4 linked regions of the Homo sapiens genome follow. The protein of the gene in region 4 interacts with the protein of the main gene of each other region in a pairwise test. Each region holds a gene or a part of one and is shown on either strand. Other genes may lie near its edges.

Region 1 (7,029 bases), on a different chromosome or scaffold from region 4:
AAATGTCAAGGTCACAAGAAACAAGGACTGAGGAACTGCTCCAGATTAAAGAAGACTAAAGAGACATAAAAAAATTAAACATGATGTATAATCCTGAATTGGATCCCAGATCAGGGAAACTGATACAAAGAACTTTATTAGGACACCCACACTGGCTCACACCTGTAGTCCCAGCACTTTGGGAGGCTGAAGCAGGAGGATTGCTAGAGCCCAGGAATTCAAGGCCAGCCTGGGCAAGACAATGAGACCCTATCTCTACAAAAAAATTGTTTTAATTAGCAGGGTATGGTGCATGTGCCTGTGGTCCCAGCTACTCAGGAGGCTGAGGCAGAAGGATCACTTGAGTCCAGGAGGTTGAGGCTGCAGTGAGCCATGATCATGCCACTGCATTCCAGCCTGGATGACAGAGCAAAACTCCGTCTCAAAAAGTAAAAAAAAAAAAAGAAAAAAGGAAAAAAATTAATAAAAGAAGAAAAAGAACTTTATTAATACAACTGGTAAAATCCGATTACGAATTATACATTAGTTATCAACGTTAAGTTTCCTAATTTTGATTACAGCTCTGTGGATATTTAAGAGAATGTCCTTGTTCTTAGGAAATACACGCTGAAGTATTAAGTCACGTTTGCAACTTACTTTCAAATGGTTTAGGAAAAAGAAAAGAATATGTATATGTAGAGAGATAGACGAAGCCAACATGGCAAAATGTTAATAATTGTTCTATCTGGGTAAAAGGCATTCTTGGTATTATTCCTGTACTTCTTTAAGTTTAAAACTATTTCAGGCTGGGTGCGGTGGCTCATGCCTGCAATCCCAGCACTTTGGGAGGCCAAGGCAGGCAGATCACCTGAGGCTGAAGTTCGAGACCAGCCTGGCCAACATGATGAAACCTCATCTCTACTAAAAATACAAAAATTAGCTGGACATGGTGGCACATGCCTGTAATCCCAGCTACTCTGGAGGCTGAGGCACGAGAATCGCCTGAACACAGGAGGCAGAGGTTGCAGTGAGCCGAGATCACGCCACTGCATTTCAGCCTGGGTTACATAACAAGACTCTGTCTCAAAAAAAAAAAAAAATATATATATATATATATATATATGTGTATATATATATAAAACTATTTCAAAGTAAGAAAGTCTTTTTTAAAAAAACTACATATCCAGGCCCCACTCCAGATAACTGACTCGGAATTTCTGGGGTGAGGCCCAGCCATCTGTTTGTTTATAACTTTTCTTGCCCCTATTCTATTTCAAGAGAATGCAGAGACCCCACTCCAGGGAAGGGAGGTGTAAACGTCCACTGCTACTGAAGTTGTTAGATGAATATTTTTCAAGTCTTAAAATGCTTCCTCAGAAGTACCAGCTCTGTCATGTTTACGAAGTTTCTCCACAGTGTAGTGATGATAACTAATATCTACTCAACACTTCCCCAGTACAAGACACCTGTTCAATCTTCACAACCACCTTCTGAGTAAGCCCTGTTATCATTCCATTTAACAGATGAGAAACTTGAGACACACAGAGGCTAAGCAACTTGCCCAATGTTACACAGCAAGTAAATGGAAGAGCTGGGATTTGAACCCAGGCAGTGGCTTATACATGCACATGCTTAGTCAAGACCCTAAACTGTCTCTCCAGCAGAAAGAACAGGGCCAGGCGTGGTGGCTCACGCCTGTAATTCCAGCATTTTGGGAGGCCGAGGCGGGCGGATCACAAGGTCAAGAGATCGAGACCATCGTGACAAACATGGTGAAACCCGGTCTCTACTAAAAATACAAAAAATTAGCTGGGCGTGGTGGTGTGTGCCTGTAGTCCCAGCTACTTGGGAGGCTGAGGCAGGAGAATCGCTTGAAACCAATGGAAGGCGGAGGTTGCAGTGAGCCGAGATTGCGTCACTGCACTCCAGCCTGGACAACGAGAGCGAAACTCTGTCTCAAAAAAAAAAAGAAAGAAAGAACAGAAGCTGTGAAAACAAACAGCTAGATCGAGATTCTCATCCCAGCTTGGCCACTTTCTAGCTAAGTAAGTCAGCCTTTTTCTTTACCCATAAATGGAAGATGTTAATATTAACTACCTCCCGGAACTGTTAAAAAGGTTAAATGAAGTAACAGCTGTGGTTTGCCTAATATGATGTCGAGCACACAAAGCTAGCACTTAGTGTCATGGCTGCTGTTACTGTTCCCCCACCTCCCTGGCCTCTCTTCCATACTCACAAGCTCTTCACCTCAGCCACGGCCTCGGGACGAGACAGGCGACCTCTCTGCAGGTCCTCCTGCCTCACGCTATGATACTTCCTCCGCATCAGCTCGGAATCAGGCAGCCGTGCCCGGCAAACCTCCTGAAGGTAGCCCAGCAGGGCGGGCACTGAAATCATCAGGGCACCTACTGAGTACCATGCACCTGCAGAATCAAAAACACTGCAGGTAACACAGGTAAGCAAAGACCAGGAGTCGGCCCACCCAGACGCCCACTGCTTGTTCCTCACCTCCTCCAGGGCTCTGCCAGTCAGGCCTTCCCTGATAGCTCTGTACGACACAGTGTCTCACCCCTACTCTCCAGCCCCCTTAACCCAGCTTCATTCCTCATAGACCTTATCACCACATGACACATTGCAGGCATGTCTGTTGTCTCCTCTAATGAAGTAAGCTCTTGAGGGCTGGGACTTTGTCCCTTTGGTCACTGCTGTGGCCCCATCCTCACTTTTAATACGTTTTAAGATGCTGCTAGCACAGAGGAGGCTCACGCTGGAGTGTGACTGCCAGGAGCTCCTGATGCCTGACACTCGGACCTCTGGGCCACTAAGGAAGCTAGAAGCCTTTCGTTCAGCTTTTAGGACACTGCAGACGATTGTGCCTTGAGAAATGGCGAAGCCGAGATAAAATTCAAAGAAAGAACTTCTTCCATGTAACATGGCACCCCAACAACAAGCTAACAGAGCAGCGGGCCCATAATAAATGCTTACTAAACATCTGTCATAGGAACTGACTTACTTTGGGAGCATATATAGAAAAATCAAACATCCTAGGAAGTTTTGAACAGGTAAAGATGAGTCCAACTAAGAAACAGAAAATGAGATCTTATATGAACTGGATTTATTTTCAACCTACTCAATCCCTATCTCCAGAGGAAACAAAGAAGACACCTGAGAAATACAAGGTAAGTAAAAGAACAAAAACATGAATAATGGCCCAGCTCCTCCAAACATTCTGTCCCAGACTCTTTATTCTCACCCTGAGGGGTTTGGCTTTTTATGTGGCCATCTGCCAGCGCCAACCACGGATAGGGTAGGGTCACGGTATGCACTGTAGTAAGAGGTTCATAGAAGACATTACCCATGACCCCAACAGACACCCATGTGTCCACACTTCTATCTCAAAGGCTTCATGCCACTCCTCACTGCTGGTGACTGCCCAGCAGCTCCCGTTAGGCTCACTAGCTGAACCAGAGAAAAGCAACAGATATGGCAAAAATCCCTTATCAGCTCCTCATCCCAGTACCTTTACTCATGCCATGTCCCCAGATGACCCTTGAATCAGCTTAAAAACCAAAATGGAAAAAGGTCAATGCATCCTCAGCAGGAAGTCAAGAAGGAAACAACGATAATACTGAGAGCAGCTACAATGCACTGGCTGCCTCTTCCACGCCAGGCACTGTGCTAAGTATTATGCCTAGACTGCCGCATTCCTCACAAATACTCTAGGAGGAAAGCGTCATTTTTATCCTCCCTCTAGAGGTAAGGAAAATTAGGCCTTAACAGGGAAGTTCAATAATCTGCCCAAGGTCACAGCAGGCAGCTCAGCCTGGATCGTCCCTCTGGAGGCTGTTTCTGACTCCAAGCAGACACAGAGGAACACTAACTCCAGGGCAACAAGAGCAGCTCCCACACATAGGGTGGGGCTGCATCCAGGTGTTCTTCCCCCACATTCGTTCACAAAAACCACTGGCCCCTGAAGGCAGTTCTTACCCTCATTCAAAGTGAGGAACAAGACGTTGAGGCCCAGGCAGGTCAGCAAGGAACACAAAGGCATCTGCCACCTACAATACAGAGAGTCCTGATCACTACAGAGAGTCACTCCTCCAGCTGGGGAGGGGAGACCAGGCAGCACAGACGGGACATCAAACCAGAAGAGGAGGCCTGGAACACAGAAGGTCAAGGAGAAACGAAAAGGGGGCCTCTCACTTGGACTGGTGACCAGGAGAGGCGGTAAGATGTCACACATTAGCACCTGGGGTGAGGAAACTGGTAGGTCTGTAGTGCTTTCTCCCAAAAGGAAGAAGAATTTATAAAATATCAGTTAAGAAACCCAGTTAATACCATTTAACCTGTGTTTTGTAAGGTTGTATTCTCCTTAAGAGGTGACACTGACAAATGTTCTTAATATTTTCCTCTATTCTTTTTTTATAATTTCATAAGAATATATAATCATTGCACAAGATTCAACTAATACAGAAATCAAGAAAAAACAAATTGTGGACTTCTTTGGCCCCATTTGTGCCTTTATCTTCTTATGTCCATGTTTTTGAAAATTTGAGAGTTTATCTGAGAGTTTATTTTGAATACCTATTAATTCAAAAAGAGAAACAATAGTAAAGATTTTATTTTAATATATTAAAAATCAAGATGAAAGTAGGGTGCAGCATTCACTTAGCAATCACACCTTAAGTGAGCTGGAACAGACAGAAGCAAACACAGATACATCACTGCCACCACCACCACCACCACCAAATGGCAATGCAGAAGCCCCCAAACAGGGAACAAGGAAGACCAGAGACTCAGATTGCTGAGAACAAGCAAATGCTGCTGGCTCCGTCCCTGATAAAGGACATTTAGTAGGGAAAGAGGAGCACAGATGCAACAATGAAGCCACGACACCCAAATTCTAAAGGCAGTGTCAATATATAGGTGAGCCACTAGGAGAGAGACAAACATCAGAAAAATAAACAGGTAAATTGCTGGCAAGCATTGAATGTATTTTCTTTTTTTTTTTTTTTTTCTTTTGAGACAGAGTCTCGCTCTGTTGCCCAGACTAGAGTGCAGTGGCACAATCTTGGTTCACTACAACCCCCGCCTCCTGGGTTCAAGCGATTCTGTCTCAGCCTCCCTAGCAGCTGGGATTACAGGGGCACGCCACCACACCTGGCCAGTTTTTGTGTTTTCAGTAGGGATGGGGTGTTTCACTATGTTGGCCAGGCTGGTCTCAAACTCCTGACCTCAGGTGATCTGCCCACCCTGGCCTCCCAAAGTGCTGGGATTAAAGGCGTAAGCTACCGTGCTGGGGCTAAATATATTTTCTTGTGCTCTGGAGTATTTCAGAGTTACTGAATGAGGTTAACTAATTCATGCAGGGCTTTTACTTTTTTTTATTATTATACTTAAAGTTCTGGGATACATGTGCAGAACGTGCAGGTTTGTTACGTAGGTATACACGTGCCATGGTGGTTTGCTGCACCCATCAACCCATCATCTACCTCAGGTATTTCTCCTAATGCTATTCTTCCTCTAGCCCCCACCCCTCAATAGGCCATGGTGTGTGATGTTCCCCTCCCTGTGTCCATGTGTTCTCACTGTTCAACTCCCACTTATGAGTGAGAACATGTGGTGTTTGGTTTTCTGTTCCTGTGTTAGTTTGCCGAGAATGATGGTTTCCAGCTTCATCCATGTCCCTGCAAAGGACATGAACTTATCCTTTTTCATGGCTGCACATAGTATTCCATGGTGTATATGTGCCACGTTTTCTTTATCCAGTCTATCATTGATGGACATTTAGGTTGGTTCCAAGTCTTTGCTATTGTGAATAGTGCTGCAACAAACATACATGTGCATGTGTCTTTACAGCAGAATGATTTATAATCTTTTGGATATATACCCAGTAATGGGATTGCTGGGTAAAATGGTATTTCTGCTTCCAGATCCTTGAGGAATCGCCACATTGTCTTCCACAATGGTTGAACTAATGTACACTGCCACCAACAGTGTAAAGGGGCTTTTACTTTTTAATGAAATTTATGAGTAAGGGAATGAAATGACATCTGTGTCTTTCTCCTGAAATTCAACACACTCCACCTGTACCACCCTAATTACGCCTCAGAACCTCTAGTGGCAGCTACCAGGGTAAAAGCGAAATAAAAGCCAATCCCATTTTGGAAATAAAAACACCACCACTCAAGTCACTTTCATTTTAAAGCCTCTTCCCTTCTATAAAATGTCTTTACTGACACTTTGGTCCCAGGAGACCCAAGCAGTAGAGTAGCTGATCCCAGGAGAGAGTCTGTTAACAATTTACTGCAGCTCTAGGCTTCAGACCTAATAGCCAGAGCCCAAGATTAGGTCCCTCTTCAAAGTCAAATCCTCTTTACTAAGAAAAGAACAATCAAAAGCACAAACTAACGTGACAGCCACTTTCATGGACCAGTGCTCCCTCTCCCAGCAGCACAGAAACTGCAGGCTCCTGGGGGCTTTTAAGTCCAATGCTCCTCCTGCATCCTGCTTTAACCAATCCTACCACATCCTCCAATTTTTAATTCCATAAAATGGAAAAACCCTAACACATTAGTGTGCTAAGACGCACTACGGACTAGTAGAGGAAAAGGAGACGGGCAGGACAGGATACACTTAACTTTCGTACTTTGCCACAAAGAGCAACACACACATACAAAGAATGTGCCGGGGGCACAGCCTCTCTCCTAAAGAAGACCAAACTTCACATCATGCTGAGATTATAAAAGGAGAAAACAGCCTCTCCTCATACTGTCTCCCTACCCCTTGTGGGAAGAGCACAGTGATCTTACAGTAGAGAACACAGCTCTGGAACACTGACTAGCTCACCTCTACGGATACAGACATAAATTAGGTGAACAAGAAAAATGTAGGGCCTTTGCCAGAGAACTAGTAACAAAACATCCACTATTTCCAGACTGAGGCATGGATAAATACTCAATGGCATCCTCAGAGGTTAACGTAACTCCACTCACCCTGCTTCCTACCAGTCTCTCTCATGTATTTCAGAGGACTGAGGGTCTTTATGAG
Region 2 (4,782 bases), on a different chromosome or scaffold from region 4:
ACTTTAAACTATTTAAAATACAGTTATATAAATTTGACATACTTTATAACATATATTTTTAATATATTGTTTTATATGTATAATAGTTATATATCATATATGAAACTATATAATATACAGAAATATAATAATAACAGAAATAGATCTCTTTTTTTTTGGGACAGGATCTTGCTCTGTCACCCAGGCTAGAATGCAGTGGCACAATCTTGGCTCATTGCAACCTTGACCTTCCCGGGCTCAAACAATTCTGCCACCTCAGCCTCCTGAGTAGCTGGGACTATAAGCACACACCACCATGCCTGGCTAATTTTTGTATTTTTTGTAGAGACAGGGTTTTGCCACGTTGCCCACGCTGGTCTCGAACTCATGGGCTTGTGATCTGCCCGCCTAAGCCTCCCAAAGTGCTGGGATTACAAGCGTGAGCCACTGCACCCAGCTGAAACAAAGACATATCTGACTGTTGCTTGTGGAGGTGCCTGCCATTCCTCCCTACAGTGATTCACAGGCTCACCCAGCCTCTCCTTCTCCTTCAAGCCCCAAACCTCTGAATGCCAGGAAGGGTGGTAAGAAGTGTCTCTGCGCCTAGTACCAGTAAAGTTGGCAGGTCACTGTGGCTAGCGGGGGCACCATTGTTGGCCTCGGGCCTGGGGAGAGAAAAATATGACATACAGGGGGCCCACGGGGGTACGTTAGGTTCAGCCCTGTAAGCCCACACTGACCCTGGTGGGCAGACCCAGCCCAGGGAGGGGCAGGCAGGAGTGACCCCGTCATCAGGTTCTGCTGGCGAGCCCAGGGTGGTGACAGGCGCACGTCTTTTGCCGGGAGCTGAAGACGTTCATGGGCTTTCAAGCAGGACAAAGCTTCAATGTCATCACCAGGTAGCAGGCAGAGCAAGGGTGCTGACAGCCTGCAGAAGCCTGTGCTTATCTCTCCATCGGAGCTAAAGCCCATGTTTGCTTAGGGAACAGCCTGAAATTCCACCCCAGCTGCTGGGCCTTTCACTTTTGAAACATAAGCCCAGAGAGCGAAAGGGGGGAACGTTGTGCCCAGATTCTCTTTCTGAGCGTGAACTTGATGTTCCTGACCAGGAACCAGCCACTCGTACCGAAGGCCTTCCTGACCCCTCAGTTCTCCCCTGAGCCTTTGCTGTGTCCTGGGCACCAAGAGGTGGAGATAGGCTGTCACCGTGCACGTTTCCTAAGCCTGCAGAGGAACTGTTCACAGAATCCAGCCTGGAATCAGCCGTTTGTGGCAAACAGTCAGTAGCTATTTCTCAACTTGTGGTTGTGAAGCTGCAGGCTCCATATTCGCTCTTCACAGAGCATCCAAGCAGGTGTCTCAGTGCCAGCTCACACCGTTCACACTGCTCACACCAGCTCTGGAGAGCTGCTTGTACACATCTCTCCACAAGTCCACTTTCAGTGTTGCCACGTGGTACCGGAAATTTGCCATAGAAATTGGCCGATGGTACGACCAGAGAGCCACCTGTTAGATAGTTACCCCACATCCCCACCCTCAACACCACCTTAGACAAATCCTACTGTCAGAACATGTGGAACGGAGAAGGGACCTTGGCGGTTCATTCATAAATGTCAGCACCCATAGGTCTGTGCCTGTTTGGCCGCAGACACTGGGGAGCAGCCTGTAGCCTTGGCTTGTGCAGCTTCCTCTGCAGGAGGGGTGCCTCTTCCAAGAAACCTGTCCTGACTCCCCAGCCCTCCCCACCTCCATTCTCGCCCCCGCTGGACAATGCACACCCTCCATCAGAGCGTGGTGCATACCTTTCATCCTAGATCTCCCACCAGCTTTGAAACCAGCATCCTGTTCATGATGTCTGGAACCCTGGGAACTGTCCCAGCACCTGTTTAGCACATGTGTGCATGCGAAGGGGATCTGCTGAGTGCTCTGCTCTGGTGGGAAGGCCGCTCTGCACAGCTGGAGCTGATGCCTTGGCAGATGCTGGGCATCTGAATCGTGCAGTGCAGGAGCACAGGGGCATGGCACCGTTTGTTGCTGGGGAACCTAGGCCTCAAAAGGGCCTCAGCCTCTCCGCAGTGCAGTGAGGACTGTCCCATACTCTCACTGCGTACAGAGTATGGGAGAGTCTCTGTGAGGCTTTGGGTGCCCTGCAGAGGGAAGGCAGTGCCAGCTGGGCCTGGTCGGGGGCCATGGAGATGGCGGGCCCAGGCTGGGGAGGACTTGTGGCACCCACTCCCTTACCCGCTAACCCGGATCCCCTGGAATCTGCAGAATGCCTGGGGTTGCTCCTCTTCTACCCTGCCGTGGCTGAGCTTTGTCTGTGCCCTGTCCTCTGGCCACGGTCTTTGCCTGATCCCTACCCTGGTACAGGCAGAGCTCCCTGCAACCCCCAGCTGTTTCCCCAGAACTGACACCAGTCTCCCTGCACCACCCATCCTCCTTTTGACTGCCCTGGGGACGCCACTGCTGCTCTGATCCTCTGTCACTCCAGCCACCTCTTGCTTCCCTGTTATCACAAACACTGAACAGTGAGCTCAGGTGTCAGCCTCCACAGAGGCATGCACAGCAAGGGGTCCGGAGGCATGCCCCATGGAGAACTGGGGGTGCTCTGCTTGCAGGAGGATCCAGGGCCCATTGCAGTCCTCAGATGTTCTGGGGGAGAGGATACGCCTGCTTCATTTCTTCTCAGGGGTCAGAACTGGGCACAGGGGGTTGGAAGGAGGGAGAAAGATGTCTATCAGGTACCCACTGCATGCCAGGCCCTCTTCTAGGCTCCCTTAAAACCTTTCAGGTAGGCCAGTCACGGTCGCTCATGCCTGTAATCCCAGCACTTTGGGAGGCCAAAGCGGGTGGATCACCTGAGGTCAGGAGTTTGAGACTAGCCTGATCAACATGGAGAAACCCCGTCTCTACTAAAAATATAAAATGAGCCAGGCATGGTGGCACATGCCTGTAATCCCAGCTACTCGGGAGGCTGAGGCAGGAGAATGGCTTGAACCCGGGAGGTGGACGTTGCAATGAGCCGAGATCACGCCATTGCACTCCAGCCTGGGCAACAAGAGTGAAACTCCGTCGCAAAAACAAAAGACAAACAAAAAACACCTGTCAGGTAAATGGTGGTAGAGCAGAAAACCTGGGCTCAGAAGCTGGCATTGATCCCAGAGCCATCCAGTTTCAAAGCCCACACCCACAACTTTCCTCCAGGTTGGGCAGTGCATGATGGAAAGGCTGTCCCAGCAAGTAGTGAGTTCACTTTCACCAGTCCCTGGAGGCAGGAGCAGAGCCTGAGCTGACCACTTGGAAGGAGATGTTATTCAGGGGACTCGAGCATCTGGCGTAGGATGGGACTCCATGAGGTCTATGCCTCCTTCTAGCTCTGAAACTCCTCAAGGGAAACCATTTCCCAGATCTCTACGTTGCTGCAGTCCCTTCTAACTTCCAGCACACCTTCTGCTCTCTCCGCAGGTGTCGTGCGCCAGGTGCGGCCCATCGTGGGCCCATTTCATGCCGTCCTGAAGCTGGAGATGAACTATGTGGTCGGGGGCGTGGTCTCCCACCGAAATGTTGTCAACGTCCACATCTTCGTCTCTGAGTACTGGTTCTGAGGGCTGGTCTGCCGCACAGCCGCAGGTGCACCTCCAGGCCAAATCATTGCTGCCAGTGACTGTGGTCTGTACTTGTTTATACCCTCAGACTTTTTTAATGTTAGGTATTTGTAGCATTAGGCCAACATGTATTAAGCTGAGCCAGATGAATAAGTCCATCTGATGTATTTTCGGTGTTTAAAAAATGAGCCCAGTTGCTCAACTGTTTGGTTGAAAACCTTGCTCATTTTTTAATGCGAAGGCTAAGTGTCACCCCCTTTCTCTGCCTCTGGCTGGGCCTTGCTAAGGGCCAAGGAAAGAAAGACATTTTTTAGGGGGCAGCCAGTCCAAATGCCAAAAGAAGACCAGTTCTTGCCCTGATTGTATGAAATTTGACATTTTGGCACTTTTTTTTTTTTTTTGGCCAATCAGATTTTCTATGTTCTAAGGACATGGCTGCTGTAGAATAGCACAGACGTGGATGATAAATTATCCCCAGAAGCAGCATGACAGAATGCCTCGGGGAGCACTTGGAAGGGAAATTGCAGTTCTGTTGAAATAGAGGAAAATCCCTTGGTAAAGACACAGCCTGTTAGGCTCGTGTGGGCCTCCAGTATGTTCACCAGGGGAATGGCTGGGATTTCTCGGCACTCTGCATCATCCATCTTTTCTTATAGGTGGGAAAATAAACAACTTTGTGATCCTCCTGATGGCCTGTGCATGAGAGTCTTTCAAGAAGAGGGCTCTCTGCCAGCTCAGGAGTCTTCCGCCAGCTAAGGGACTGGAAATCTCCCCCCGCCGTCCCCCTGCCTCACCCCACCCAAGGTTGTCTCAGTGCTCCTCCTGCCCCTCAAGGTTCTGGGGCGGGGCCCAGCTTGTGTATTGGAAAAGCTTCCTACACACGTCGTTTTCAATGCCATGCCCACCCTCTGAGAAGTGTGGCTCGGGTTTGTTCCCTGCCCCATGTCCAGTGCTGCTAGGAAAGCCCAGGGCTCTGGCTTCTGTGTGACTTGCTTCCAATAGCATCCCTCGTGGCATCCTGATCCTCTCTAGAAATCCCTGGGGGCAAATAATGACCCTTCCGCAGCCATGAGTCCCTGCCAGACACAGGCCTGGGCCAGGCATTTGACATGAGGTGCTTCGCTCATTCCTCCTGGTGGCCCAGTGTGGTGGGTATGATCACACACAATCTTGAGATGGACAAACTGGGCTCAGAGAG
Region 3 (7,029 bases), on a different chromosome or scaffold from region 4:
TTCACACAAGTCTCAAAATTGCTATAGATTAGAATCAAAGGATTCTATATCCCTAAGGTAGATATTTGACATGAGATTGACCAAGGAATGATTGTAGATTAATGGACAGTTTCTTATCAGTAAGTGGTAAAGGTACCATTACAAAATAGGTATATTCCCAAAACATTCCTCTTAAAGAAAGTTGTATCTGCCCACAGTATCTTGGGATAATTTCTATGTTGTTTCTCTTATACTGCTGGAGACATTAAAAGGAGTTAAAAGACAAGTGACCAGCTATTAGCTTGAGTTGTAGAAAGATGGTTGACTCATTCATTCGTTCAGCAGACATCTTTTCTGCATTATGTTCACCCTTGAGGATACAAAGATGAAAAGCAGCTACAGTCCAGCAGTGTAGAAACACAAAGAGACAGCTGGTCACAGTAGCATATGTACCCCAAGGTAGGAGGAAAATTCTGAGGAACACCAAGGAGGAAGTGGCAGCTCTTAAAGAGGGGCGGTGAGGTAAGACTTTACGGAAAAGTTAACAATTTAAATTGAAGGGCACACAGAAATGAGCTCAGCAGGGAAGGACAGCTGGTCTTTTCCTTGCAGTGTGTGTGAAAGTCTGGAGCATTTTTGGAGAACTTGATTTGTTTGGTGAGGCTAGGCAGTAGGTGCATTGTGAGAAGACAAGGCTGAGGAGTGGGTGATACCAGATGTCAGGGTCGTGAAGCCATGCTAAGGAAGTATATCTTTATTGAGCACGCACCAGGAGAGGAGTTCAGACAGGGACTGACTTGATCATTCCCCTGTCTTTAGAAAAGTAACTGATGGCAATGAAGGGTGGGTAAGAGGGAAGGAAGGGTAAAAGGCAGAGCAGTCAGGAACCTACCTGTACTTCACAGGACAGGCAGGAAGGGCCTGGGCTAGGGCGGTGGGAATGGACAGGGAAAGGTTAAAAGGCACTCCAGGGGCGTTTTGGGGAACATAGGAGAACCTGACTGAATGTGAGAGAGAGGAAAGTAAGGCTCTGATCCCTGAGGGAGATTATATCATCAATTATTGGAAACACACAAGAGGAGCCCATTTGTAGAAAAAAGGCACCAGTTGATTTTAAACAAGTTCCTGCAGATTATATAAGTAGAGATGGCCAGGAGACTGGCCAATATAAGGTTAAGGATGCTCAAGCGATGAGGGAAGAGCAGTAGATCTCAGCAAATAGTAAAAGACATCAGTCAGGGCGATGAAAGAGGAAGGCAGGCATCTGCCTTAAAAACTGTTAAGTGCAGGAGGCAGTGAGGGAGGAGTACAAACCAGAGGGTAGTTCTTCCAAGCAAAACTTGCAGGTTCTGCAAAGAGGGCTCGCAGGAAGGGCCACAGGGAGTCTGGACATGTCCATGGAGATCATAGTGCCCTTAGGAGAGCATTAGAGGGGTGGTGGCAGGAGCCAGGCTGTGCTGCATTGAGGGACAGTGGAGGCCTGAGAGCCCCTGCTGTTCCAGGCAGTCCTGTGGCGAAGACACGCGGCTGCCTGAAGAGGCTGCAAAAGGAAAGGCAGGTGAGCACACACCCTCTGTATCCGTTTTTGCTTGCTGCTGTGCCCCAAGGAGCAGGCAGCAGAAGAATCAGTTCTTTGTCCTTCATATTCACAGAGGACTCTTAGTTAAAGCTGGCAGGAGTATGGTTCAAATTCCCTGCTCTTCTATTTTTGTCTTGATGGATTTCTATAGACTTAGAGTTTATGTAACAAGATACCCAGACCTACAGGAACAAGAAGTATGTAGAAGTCATTCAAAAGCCTAGCTGTTCTTGCCAGATCTGATCCAAACAGTCCTGTTAAATCTTCTTCAAAGCCTTTTTTTCAGTTATATTTGTGAAGTATTTTGTGGACGAATGGGATTTGAGGTCTTGAGATGTTGTTTCTACTGAATGGTATGGTATTTTAGGGTTAGTGATTATCCAGTGTATCTAGGTGTATTGGTGGGGGATGAGGAATAGTATCCACAGAAAAGTCATCCAGAGAGAGGAAAATCTCTTCTACCATTGATTGGGTTTTCCAAAGCAACTGACGAGACCACATACCTTTTCAAGCCACACACATTGGCAACCATCTCTAACCTGCCCCCATGCCCCATTGTCATCGTGTCCCCCCAACCTCTGTCTTTGTTTTTTTTTTTTTTTAGACAGAGTCTCACTCTATCACTGAGGCTGGAGTGCAGTGGCGCGATCTCAGCTCACTGCAACCTCCGCCTCCTTGGTTCAAGCGATTCTCCTGCTCAGCGTCCCGAGTAGCTGGGACCACAGGCGCCCGCCACCACGCCCAGCTAATTGTATTTTTAGTAGAGATAGGGTTTCACCATGTTGGCCAGGCTGGTCTCGGACTCCTGACCTCAGGTTATCTGCCTGCCTTGGCCTCCCAAAGTACTGGGATTACAGGTGTCAGCCACTGCTCCTGGCCCCGGTCTTCCATTTTTTAAATTTTGCCATTTTTAGAAAGAAATGAAGTCCAACACTGCATCTGTATTCCTAATCACCTGAATTTCTATTTCTCCCTTATTTTCCCAAGATCTTTTATCCTTGTAGGCCCTTATATGCATTTATTTTTCCCTATTTACTAGGATCAGGTAGAAGGAAATAGAGGACTTTTCTCCTCCTTCTAAGAATTGAGAAGAAGCTAGATTATCAGAAATTAAATTTATAGAGCTATTTTCATCCATGGTGCTTAAAGGGCATTCATATAGCTTACTGGTCTTTGAAATCTTGTAGAATAATTAGACATTTTATCTTCCCCTAGTCTATACCCCACATTCCCATCTTTGTGACTCTAGTTGTCGCATCTTTGATTATGTGATACTATTTCTTTTGTGCCAGACATGTTTTATCTCCTAATTTTCAGTGGGTAGGAGCCAAACAGCATGAATTACAAGTGAACTCAATGCAGCTGCTGTACTACCAGGCTCCGATGTCATCTGCCATGTTGCTGGTTGCTGTGCCCTTCTTTGAGCCAGTGTTTGGAGAAGGAGGAATATTTGGTCCCTGGTCAGTTTCTGCTTTGGTAAGTTCTAATTGTTTTGATATCTAAGAAACAGTATAATAATAACTCCTCCATTATTAATGTAATTTTTAGTTTTCAGAGCACTATGTCCGATCCATTCTCACATTTATCGTCATAATCACCATAAAAGGAGGTAAGGTAAGGATTCTTTTTCAGATGAAGAAATTGAGGTACACAAAGGTGAAGGGACTTGCCTAGAGTGAGGCAGCTACTCAGTGGCAAAAGCAGAACTACAATTAATGTCTTCCGATGCCTGGTTACTGTTCTGACCATGTCAAGCTAGAGCCCACAAATAATTTGGACATTTAGATTAAGTTAAATTTTTTTACAATGAAAACATAGCTTTATAATCACTATTTCGATTTTGAACATACGTAAAAATATAAAGAAAGTGAAGGGGCCAGGCACAGTGGCTCACTCCTGTAATCCCAGCACTTTGGGAGGATGAGCTGGGCAGATCGTTTGAGCCCAGGAGTTTTAGACCAGCCTGGGCAACATAGGAAGACCTCATCTCTACAAAAAATTAAGAAATGGGCAGGGTGTGGTGGCTCATGCCTGTAATCCTGGGAATTTGGGAGGCTGAGGCGGGTGGATCACTTGTCAGGAGTTCAAGACCAGCCTGGCCAACATGGCGAAACCCATTCTCTACTAAAAATACAAAAAAATTAGCTGAGGCTGGGTGCGGTGGCTCATGCCTGTAATCCCAGCACTTTGGGAGACCAAGGCAGGCAAATCACCTGAGGTCAGGAGTTCAAGACCAGCCTGGCCAACATGGCAAAACCCCGTCTCTACTAAAAATACAAAAATAAGCCAGGCGTGGTGGCACACACCTATAATCCCAGCTACTCAAGGAGGCTGAGGCACAAAAATCACTTGAACCCGTGAGGTGGAGGTGCAGTGAGCTGGGATCACACCTGTCTCAAAAAAAAAAAAAAAAAGAATTAGCTAAGTGTGATGGCATGCTTCCTGTAATCCCAGCTACTCAGGAAGCTGAGGCATGAGATTTGCTTGAACCTGGGAGGTGGAGGTTGCAATGAGCCAAGATTGTGCCACTGCACTCCAGCCTGGGCCACAGAGCAAGACTCTGTCTCAGAAAAAAAATAAATAAATAAAAAAGCCAGGCATGGTGGCACATGCCTGCAGTCCCAGCTACTTGGGAGGCTGGGGTGGGAGGATCACTTGAGCCCAGGAGGTCGAGGCTGCAGTGAGCCAAGATAGCACCACTGCATTTCAGCCTGGGCAACAGAGTGAGACCCTGTCTCAAAAAAAAAAACCAAACCAAAACAACAACAACAAAAGAAAGTGAAGGGCCTCTGGAACCCTATCACACTAAGGTAATTACCTTTACCATTTTGGTGAGGATCATTTCATGGATCTCTTTTGTATAAACACATAGGTACACATGCATGTGTGTATAATTTTAGATATGGAATGATATCATAGATGCTGTTTTTATTGCAGATTCCTTTTCCCCAGCCTTCCTAGCCACACACTCTTCCACATTCCATTACCCCCTAATCTTCCACATTCCATTACCCCCTAATCCGTGCCCCTTGAAGTCATGTTAACTTTCTAAGTGCTTGTTCTTCCATATTTTTCTCCATGCCGTATATATCCATACACACACACACACACACACACACACCCCAATTAAACATCTATTTCTTTTCTTTTTTTTGAGATGGAGTCTCACTCTGTCGCCCAGGCTGGAGTGCAGTGGTGCAATTCTTGGCTCACTGCAAACTCCGCCTCCCGGGTTCAAGCGGTTCTCCTGCCTCAGACCCTAGCTGGGACTATAGGCGCACACCACCACGCCCAGCTAATTTTTGTATTTTCAGTAGAGATGGGGTTTCACCATCTTGGCCAGGATGGTCTCAATCTCTTGACCTCGTGACCCACCCGCCTCGGCCTCCCAAAGTGCTGGGATTACAGTCATGAGCCACCGTGTCCGGCCACATCTGTTTCTTTGACAAAAGTGGAATCCTATTACATATGCTTTTCTGTATCTTGCTTTTCTGACTTAATAATATCTCCTAAAAATCTCTCCAAAGCATTCTTTCCAGGGTCTATTTTGTTGTTGTTGTTGTTTTTGTTTTGTTTTGTTTTGTTTTGAGTCAGAGTCTCACTCTGTCACCCAGGCTATAGTGCAGTGGCGTGATCTCTGTTCACTGCAACCTCCACCTCCTGGGTTCAAGTGATTCTTGTGCCTCAGCCTCCCGAGTAGCTGGAATTAGAGGTGTGCGCCACCATGCCTGGCTAATTTTTTTGTATTTTTGATAGAGACAGGGTTTCACCATGTTGGCCAGGCTGGTCTTGACCTCCTGACCTCAAGTGATCCACCCACCTCGGCCTCCCAAAGTGCTGGGATTACAGGCGTGAGCCGCCGCGCCCAGCCGGTGTCTGTGTAATAGCCCCTCTGCATATTCACTTTTTTCCCAGTTCTTTACCACTATGAACAATATTGTGATAAACATCCTTGTACATCATGTGTTCTCATGTACTGATAACTTTTTTCCTATGGAAATGAGTCCCAGGAGTGGAATTGGCAAATCAAGGGCATATGTATTTTGGGGACTTTTATTTTTTAGAGACAGTGTCTGGCTATGTTGCCCAGGCTGGCCTCAAGCTCCTGAGCTCAAGTGATCCCCCCAACCTCAGCCTCCCAAGCAGCTAGGACTAATGCGTTGGGGACATTTTAAGTTAGAATGTATAATCCTCCTATGTCTTAGTCAGTTCAGGCTGCTATAACAAAACTACAATGGACTGGGTGGCTTAAACAACAAATACTCATTTCTCACAGTTCTGAAGTCTGGAAGTCTGAGAACAGGCTGCCAGTATGGTTGGGTTCTTGGTGAAGGCTCTTTTCCTGCTTTATAGATGGCAGTCTTCTTGCCATATCCTCATCTGACAACAAGGAAGAGGAGAAGCAAGCTCTCTTGTATCTCTTCTTATCATAGGGACTAATCCCATTCATGAAGGCTCTGCCCTTATGCCATAGTCACCTCCCAAAGGCCCCACCTCCCAATACCATCACCTTGCGGGTGAGGATTTCAACATAGGAATTTTGGGGGGACACAAACATTCAGTCCATAATACCTTACTTATCAGGAATTCCTGCTTCCCACAAGAGTTCCCACAACTCTTGGAACACAGTCAGTGGGAATATCTTTTTTGTTGGTCGCATCAATTTATCAAGCACCTATATAGCCCTTAGTCTGTTCCCAGCACTATTCAAAGCACTATGTAAATATTAACTTATTTAATCTTCATAACTTTATTAGGTTGATGCTATACTAATACTATTTGTATTAGTCCATTTTATGATGTTATAAAAGCATACCTGAGACTAATTTATAAAGAAAAGAGGTTTATTTTGGCTTATGGTTCTGCAGACAGTACAAGAAGCATTAGTGCTGGCATCTACTTCTAGTGAGGGCCTCAGGAAGCTTACAGTCATGGTGGAAGGTGAAGGGGGAGCAGGCATGTCACATGGCGAGAGAGGGAGCAAGAGAGAGAGGGGAGGAAATGCCAGTCTCTTTTAAACAGCTAGCTCTCATGAGAACTAATAGAGCAAGAACTCACTCATTACCCTGGGGAGGGCACCAAGCCATTCATGAGGGATCCAGCCCCATAACCCAAACACCTTCTACTAGGCCTCACTTCCAACATTGGTGATCAAATTTCAACATGAGATTTGGAGGGAACAAACATCCAAACTATATTACCATTGTTATTATTTTTACTGATGAGGAAACCGAGAGATAAAGAGTTAGTAACTGGCTCGCAATCCCACAGCTAATAAGCAGAAACACAATTTGGATACATGCCTTCTGGGTCCAAAGTCTGTGTTCTCCAGTGCTCCGCTCTGCTTCCCCTAAGTAGACCAGTAGTTATTTCAAATTTATATATTTTACCATATACACTTTTTTTCTAAAGTAGAGGTCATTGGACCATCTATCAGATAATATTTCCACTTTGCAAAAGTCCTAGCCATC
Region 4 (7,974 bases):
CATGTTCACTTTGGGGTAGAGATGTAACATTTACATGTATTACAGTTAGGCCCTATACATCAAAAGGTCTTTCTAAGACTCAAAGGCACTTGGTGCACAGAGTTTGTAAACCAGCCGGGACCAGCCATGGTCAGTGGTCTCTTACCAGGAGAGTTACTGAAATCTGTCTCTTGTCTTGTCAGAGGTGTAGCTGTGGCTGGTGGACGAGGGTTCAGTCAGGCAGGTTTATTCAGTTTGAATGTGACAAGCCTAGGTGTGGTTTTTTGTTTTGTTTTGCTTTATGTTTTTTGTTATTTGTCCTGATGGATGTTCTGTATGTTTCCTGGATCTATGGTTTGGTGTCTGTCATTAATTTGGGGACATTCTTGCCATTCCACCATTTCTCCTGCCCCTTCTCCTCTTTCCTCCTTCCGATTCTCCCATTGTACCAATCATATCCTTTGATGTTGTTCTTGGATGGTGTTTTCTGTTGGTGTATTAGGCTGTTCTTGCATTGCTATAAAGAAATACCTGAGACAGAGTAATTTATAAAGAGAAGAGATTTAATTGGCTCACAGTTCTTGCAGGCCATACCAGCATGGCACCAGCATCTGCTCAGCTTCTTGGGGGCCTCAGGGAACTTTTACTCATGGCGGAAGGCAAAGTGGGAGCAGGCATTTCACACGGTAAAAGCAGGAGCAAGAGAGAGAGAGAGTGAGGGTGTGGGTAGGTGCCAGACACTTTAAAGAAAAACAGATCTCAGGCGGGCGCGGTGGCTCATGCCTATAATCGCAGCACTTTGGGAGGCCGAGGTGGGTGGATCAAGAGGTCAGGAGTTTGAGACCAGCCTGGTCAACATGGTGAAACCCCATCTCTACTAAAAATACAATAAATTAGCCAGGCATAGTGGCACAAGCCTGTAATCCCAGCTACTCGGGAGACTGAGGCACAAGAATCACTTAAACCCAGGAGGTTGCAGTAAGCTGAGACTGTGCTGTGCCACTGCACTCCAGTCTGGGCAACAGAACGAGACTCCGTCTCAAAACAAAAACAAAAACAAAAACAGATCTCACATGAACTCAGAGTGAGAGCTTACTCATCACAAGGGGATGAAGCGATGGTGCAAGCCATTCATGAGGAACCCGCCCCCATGATCCAAACACCCCCTGCCAAGCCCCACCTCCAAAACTGGTGATTATAACTCAACATGAGATTTGGTGGGGACACACACTCAAACTAGATCAGTTGATTTTTTTTTTTTTCATCACCTTTTCTCCTTGAATTTCAGTTTGGGAAGTTTCTGTTGACTTATCTTCATATTCACTGATTCTTTCCTTCATTCTGTCTAGTCAACTAATGAGCATTCTTTATTTCTATTGTGTTTTTGACTTCTAGCATTTTTTTTTTATTATTGTTTCCATCTTTCTGCTGATATCACCTATCTGGTCTTGCATGTTGTCTAATTTTTCTGCTAAAGCCAGTTTATCCAGGAGTTTCTGCTCTGGGTGAGCAGCTCTCAGGTGCTGTCTCTCCCTGGATGTGCCTGTCTCTTCAGAGCAGGGTGCCAGTTTGTCTGGCAGCCTTAGTTCTCTGATGGGCCCATGAAAGGCTGCCCTGCTATTCTTTGCTGTAAGGATGGGGGTGGTGACTGCCAAGCACGTCACATGACACCAGTTGAAGTTGCGGAACTTCTGAGCCAGGCTCCTAAAGTGAGACTTCCAATCCACCTTCCGTACAGGTTTCCTTAAAAAATGGGGTGCGCGACCAGCAAGGTGGCTCACTCCTGTAATCCCAGCACTTTGGGAGGCCTAGGTGAGAGGATCCTTTGAAGCCAGGAGTTCAAAGACCAAACTGGCCAACATAGTGAGCTCCCCGTCTCTATAAAATAAATAAATAAAATAAAAAGAAATAGGCTGAGTGAGAAACAGTGGCTCCAATCTTCCTCTGATGTCCCAGCTCTCAGAACAAGGTTGCTTTGTTTGCTTTTCCTTTTATAAGCACCATGTGTTAGGCAAATTCTTAAGTGGTTCCCTGAGGTATTCATGCTCCTACGTGACACCTTAATCTGCACCGGGCCAACCCAGTGACCTGTTTCTCATGAGCAGAGCCTGGAAAGCATGAGGCACAGCTCTGCTTCCTCTGTGTCACAGCTCTGATCTTGTCAGTCACTCATTGGCTCCTGCAACAAATGACCACAGCTAAGTGGCTTTTACAACAGCAGAAGTTTATTCCTTCACAGCTCTGGAGGCCAAAAGTCCAAAATCACTTTTAATGTGCTGAAATCAAGGCATTGGCAGGGCCAGGCTCCCTCGCATGGCTCCTGGGGAGAATCTGCTCCTTGTTTCTGGGGCCTCTGGTGGCTCCGGCGTTACTTGGCTTGGGACTGCATCACGTCAATTTTCAAGGCCCCATCTTCATCTCTGCTCCATCTTCCCATGGCCCTCTCTTCTGTGTGGCACCAAATTTCCTTCTGCCTCCCTCTTACAAAGATGCATGTGGCCGGGCACGCTGGCTCATGCCTGTCATCCCAGCACTTTGAGAGGCCAAGGCAGGAGGATCGCTTGAGGCCAGGAGTTCAAGACCAGCCTGGCCAACACAGAGACCCTGTCTCTGTTGTATGTATTTATTTTTGAGATAGGGTCTCACTTTGTCACCGAGGCTAGAGTGCAGTGGTGCGATCCTGGCTCACTGCTGCCTCAACCTCCTGGCCTCAAGCAATCCTTCCACCTCAGGAGTAGCTGGGACTACAGGTGCACACTACCATGCCCAGATAATTTTTCTATCTTTTGTAGAGACGAGGTCTCACCATGTTGCTCAGGCTGGTCTCGAACTCCTGGGCTCAAGAGATTTACCTGCCTCAGGCTCCCAAAGTGCTGGGATTATAGGCGTGAGCCACAGTGTTTAGGGCCCACCTGGATAATCCAGGACAATCTCTCTATCTCAAGATCCTTAATGACATTAGAAAAAAAAATTGTTTTCCCATACGAGGTAATATTTACAGGTTGCCTGGATTAGGACTTGATGGCTTTATAAGGGCCATTTTCCAGCTGTGCATGGCTTGGTCGGCTTCTCTTGTTTGCAGGAAGCTATGTGACAAGCGCAGCACCTGCAATGAGCTGTGATTGGCTGATGTAGACTGGGGGTGGGGGCTCGGACCCCCGGCAGGTGGTGTTCGAAAAGGTACAAACTCACTCTGCAGTCATCAACTCACCTTTCGGGGTGCCTCTGAGGCGTGAGGCCTGTGGGGTGACGTCCGAGCATGCCAGATTTCGTCCACTGAGCCGGGCTCCTGGAGGCCCCGTGCACAGATGCAGCTCTAGGCCCCAGGCTGCGGGCACAATTTGCCCCATGCCTCCACAGCCTCTGGATTTAAGATAACCGAGGATAGCGTCTGGGACCCCAGTGCTCCCGTGAGGGTCAAGGAGGTCCGGAGCTTACTCCAACCTCCAGGGCAGAGAGGACAGATGATCCCAAAGGCTGCTGGGCTCAGGCTAGGGCGCGGCTGAGCAGGGGCAGCTGCTTTTTCTCTCCCAGGCTTCCTGCTGTGCCTTTTACTCACCTCTACGTTCCTGGTGCTGGGGCTCCGCAGCGCTGGCTCTAAAGAAGTTCCAACGCCAGCCTGGGGGCGCAAGGCAGGAGCGCCCTGTTTCCTCGATTGTTGGGGATTTGCTCCTAGTTAGGTGGTGACTGTCCTTATGATCCCCCATAAAACCAGTCGGGCAGGGGGCAGGGGGCAGGGGGCCGGGATCGTGGAGAAGAGGCCGCGGCTGGCGGGGAAGCAACCCTCAGCGTGGACCCCTCAACCTCGCGGCTCGCCCCTTACCCGTGCACCCCTCGCCTCACACCCCCGCGCCCCTCACCCACGCGTCCCTCACCCTACACACACCCGCCCATCACTCGCGCACCCTTCACCCCTCACCCACGCTCCCCTCACCCTTCACCGGCGCGCCCCTCACCCCTCACCCCTCACCCAGGCGCCCCTCACCCTTCACTCGCGCATCACTCACCCCTCACCCCTCACCCACGCTCCCCTCACCCCTCACCCCTCACCCGCGCTCCCCTCACCCCTCACCCGCGCGCCCCTCACCCCTCACCCGCGCTCCCCTCACACTTCACCCGCGCTCCCCTCACTCTTCACCCGCGCGCCCCTCATCCACGCGCCCCTCGCCCTCAGTCCTCACCCGCGCGGGCCAAGAGGGTCCCGGGCGAGGGCAGCTCCCCGCGGGCGGGTGTGGGGCTCGGAGTTGGCTTGGCACGCGAGGCCGGCAGCAGGGCCCGGGCTTCACGCACGCCTGGCCCCCGAGTCTGTCTTGAGGCTCAGGAGCTGCCTTTTCTGCAAATAGGCGCCCAACGGTTCAGCCCGGAGAACTACACGGGGATGGGGAGAGGCCGCCCCGCGTTTCTGCAGCGACAGCGACCGTGGCCGCAACCACGATAATGACAATGGCCACGGTGACGGCCGCGCGTCCAGCCGGCCCCCCGGCGACGGCCCCGGCGCATCTGCTCGTGGGGCACTTGCATCGGAGCGGAGACCCGCGGGGGGCGCTCCGTTTCCCGAGACCCCGGCCGCCTCTGGGCGCTGCAAACTCCGAGCCGGGTCCCCGGGTCTCCTGGGTCAGGACAGAGCTGGACGAGACTCGTCCCCGGGTGGCCCGCATTCAGGACACGCGTGAGAGGGGCGTCCGGACCCCGCGCCCCCGGCCCTCCAGGACGACGCCCTCCGCTTGGATGGCCGCGCGCCGGGACAGCTGGAGACGGGTTAACGTGGGCGCCAGGCCTGAGGGACCGGCCCCGCCCGGCTGGTATTTCCCGACCGGGCGGGAGGAGCCACGCGCCCCCACCGCCCCGACAGCCCCGGCTCCCGGCCCCGCCTGCGCCCGCCCTGCCCAGCGCGCTCTAGGACACCGCGGCGCCTCCGCGCAGCTCCGGCGTGGGCGGGGCCCGGCATTGTGACGTCACGGGGCGGGGTTTCCCGGCGCCTGAGCGGACTGACGCCGAGACGCGCGCGGGTCAGCGGCGCGGGGACGCGGGGCGCTGGGCGCGGGGCTGGGGGCGCAGGTAAGGAGCGCGGGGGCGGCGCGGGGTCCTCGGGGGGCGGCCTAGGGCGGCCGAGGACGCAGGGCCGGGGCAGTTGGTCGCGGCCTTCAGTCCCCTGGCTTGGTCCTGTGGGGTCCCCGGCCCGGCACCTCCTCCCGCGAGCCGTGCGCCCCCATCCTGGGCCTGCGCCCCCTTCCCCCGAGCCGTGCGCCCCCATGCTAGGCCCTGTGACCCTCCCCCGAACAGTGCGCCCCGATCCTGGGCCCTGCGCCCCCTCCCCCACCCCATCCCGGGGCGCGCGTGGACCCCCGCCGGCTAAGCGCACCCGGGCGGTGACCCCAGGGGCTTCGCCCGTCCTCGACCCCGGCGCTGGGACCCCTCCCCAGCCCCCTCCGGGAGCGTCTCGGGACCCCCAGACACCCCCCCGTCCCAGGCAGGGGCCGCTCCTCGCGCGCCCCGGGCCCCGGTCGCCCCCGCTCTGCCTCGGGTCCTGCGGCTGGCGCGGGTCGGGTCGGGTCCGTGCGCGCCGCCCCAGCCTCCCTGGGCGGAACTCGAGCAGCTCCCCGCTCCCCGCAGGCCCCGAGGCCGCAGGAGCGCGCGGAGCGGCGATGAGCAGGCGGCCGGTGGCCCGCGGGGCGCGGAGCCCGTGACAGCCTCGGCCAGGCGGGCGCTGCGATGGAGGCCGAGGGCCTGGACTGGCTCCTGGTGCCACTGCACCAGCTGGTGTCCTGGGGCGCGGCCGCGGCCATGGTCTTCGGAGGGGTGGTGCCCTACGTCCCGCAGTATCGGGACATTCGCAGGACGCAGAACGCCGACGGCTTCTCCACCTACGTGTGCCTGGTGCTGCTGGTGGCCAACATTTTGCGGATACTCTTCTGGTAAGTTGGGGGCTTGCTTTCCTGGGCTGCACCCGGAGAAGAGGGTTTCTCCTTTGGGGTTTCTGGTTGAGGCCGGGGGAGCAGCAGGGTCCACACCTCCCTGCTGGGCCAGCGTCCCACTCTGCCGTGGATGGGGTACGTGGCTGCAGGCAAGTCACTTCTTAGGGTGAGATTATTTTTCCAGAAAAACGGTGGGGTTGGAGCACAGAATCTCAGAGAAAATCTCCAGATCCGCCTCCTTGCATGATGTTCCACATGGGTACTTAGCAGGGACCTCTCAGCTGGGCACTGGCCTAGGCCTGCCTGTGGAGAGGAGCCGTTCCTGCCCTCCTTTTTCATGTTGTATAGTTTTTCTTTGTTGTTTTGAGAGAGGGTCTTGCTCTGTGGTCCAGGCTGAAGTGCATGATGACATGACAGCTCACCGCAGTCTCCACGTTCCTGGGCTCAGGTGATCCTCCCATCTCAGCCTCCCGAGTAGCTGGGACCACAGGCGCACCACCACACCCGGCTAATTGTTTTTTTTGTATTTTTTGTAGAGACAGGGGAGTGGGGGGTTGTCTCACTTTGTTGCCCAGGCTGGTCTCGAACTCCTGGCCTCAAGCATCCCTCCCCACTGGGCCTCTGAAAGGGCTGGGATTACAAGCTGAGCCACGGCGCCTGGCCTGCCTTATTTAAATAGGAAGTCACTCTCTCTGGAGACTGTCTTGTTCCTCTCCCCAACTTCCTCTTTGTATTTGTATTAGGCTAAGGAAATTGAAATTAATTTTAACAGTTGTTGAAGGCAGACATAATTGGGAGGGTGAGTTTTCAGAGGAAATGAGGTCTCACAGCTGCATTCTAAGGCCAAAAACGTCTGAAATTTTTCTTTCTTCTGGGTGATCCCAGCCTCTCTGTCCGGGCAGATTGGAAGGTGTCTGCTGCTCTTCCTATGAAGAGGGCCTGGTGGAGGGGTGGAGAGAAGGAGTCCAGGCAGCTGGTGTCAAGAACTCTGCTTCTGACTCTGGTCACTGAGTAATCACGTACCTGCTTCTTTGCCTGTTAGTTTTGTTTTGTTTTTTTTTGAGACAGAGTCTTGCTCTGTCGCCAGGCTGGAGTGCAGTGGTACAATCTCGGCTCACTGCAGCCTCTGACTCCTGGGTTCAAGTGATTCTCCTGCCTCAGCCTCCTGAGTAGCTGGGACTACAGGTGCCTGCCACCATACCCAGGTAATTTTTGTATTTTTAGTAGAGACCAGGTTTCACCATGTTGACCAGGATGGTCTCGATCCCTTGACCTCATGATCCACCCACCTTGACCTCCCAAAGTGTTGGGATTACAGGCGTGAGCCACCGCGCCTGGCCCGCCTGTTAGTTTTTAAGTCAACCTTATTGAGGTGTGATTTGCATTCCATGAAATACACCCCTTTCGTGTCCATTTGATGAGTTCTGATGCTGAGGTGTCCCGTGTTCATGAGCCGGGGTGCTCCCTGCTCCGTGGCCTTCATCCCAGCCCTGGCCATGGGCAGCCATTGGTCCATGTGTCCCTGGGTGTTAGTTTTGCCCCTGCCAGGGATTTTTAGGTGAGCGAGTGGGTTGGCTGCCTCTTCCCCAGAGTTGTCTCTGAGGCAGGGAGGTTTGTCCCCTGCAACGACCTCGGAGGAGGATTTTGGGTCCGAGTCCCGTCTCGAGGTTTGTCTCTGGGCCAGGCTGCATCTGAGGGAGGTTCAGGGGTGCTCATTTTGGAGACTCCTTCTTTCTTTCCCATCGCCTGCTTTGGAGACGTGGCTGGCGGTGCTGCAGTGGCCTCAGTGAGCGTAAGGTTGACTGGAAGTAGGTTTCTAATTGTCTAATGCTGTTGTTTACTTTGAGTGCATGTTGTGGGGGTTGGGGAGACGCTGGTCGGCAGGCCACCTGCTACAGCCCCAGCTCACGTGTGTGTTGTGAAGGAGCGCTGCACTCGTCTTCAGGGTTATAGAATAAATTCTCTCCAAAATAATGGAGGAAAATTGCCTGAGAGTGGATAACCATACGGGAAAGAAGTTCCGCTTAGAGGTTTCCCTCCCCAGTATGCTCATAGTTCAAAGTTGCTAAAAGAAAATAAA

What was found.
Region 1: the proteins of SLC66A2 (region 4) and ZFYVE27 interact in binary tests that used the Homo sapiens proteins (3 or more experiments, as listed by UniProt).
Region 2: the proteins of SLC66A2 (region 4) and FBLN1 interact in binary tests that used the Homo sapiens proteins (3 or more experiments, as listed by UniProt).
Region 3: the proteins of SLC66A2 (region 4) and SLC35E3 interact in binary tests that used the Homo sapiens proteins (3 or more experiments, as listed by UniProt).

The regions. Positions count from the first base shown.
Region 1 is NC_000010.11:97,740,102-97,747,130, reverse strand, and holds part of ZFYVE27 (protrudin), read right to left. Parts: intron 4,038-7,029; coding exon 3,967-4,037; intron 3,539-3,966; coding exon of another isoform or gene 3,500-3,538; intron 2,403-3,499; coding exon 2,216-2,402; intron 1-2,215. UniProt on the Homo sapiens protein: Key regulator of RAB11-dependent vesicular trafficking during neurite extension through polarized membrane transport. Promotes axonal elongation and contributes to the establishment of neuronal cell polarity.
Region 2 is NC_000022.11:45,596,863-45,601,644, forward strand, and holds the end of FBLN1 (fibulin-1 isoform D precursor), read left to right. Parts: intron 1-3,444; coding exon 3,445-3,584; 3' UTR 3,585-4,273; downstream 4,274-4,782. UniProt on the Homo sapiens protein: Incorporated into fibronectin-containing matrix fibers. May play a role in cell adhesion and migration along protein fibers within the extracellular matrix (ECM).
Region 3 is NC_000012.12:68,749,157-68,756,185, forward strand, and holds part of SLC35E3 (solute carrier family 35 member E3), read left to right. Parts: intron 1-2,875; coding exon 2,876-3,034; intron 3,035-7,029. UniProt on the Homo sapiens protein: Putative transporter.
Region 4 is NC_000018.10:79,948,644-79,956,617, reverse strand, and holds the start of SLC66A2 (solute carrier family 66 member 2), read left to right. Parts: upstream 1-4,964; 5' UTR 4,965-5,037; intron 5,038-5,587; exon of another isoform or gene 5,588-5,592; 5' UTR 5,593-5,691; coding exon 5,692-5,894; intron 5,895-7,056; exon of another isoform or gene 7,057-7,099; intron 7,100-7,974.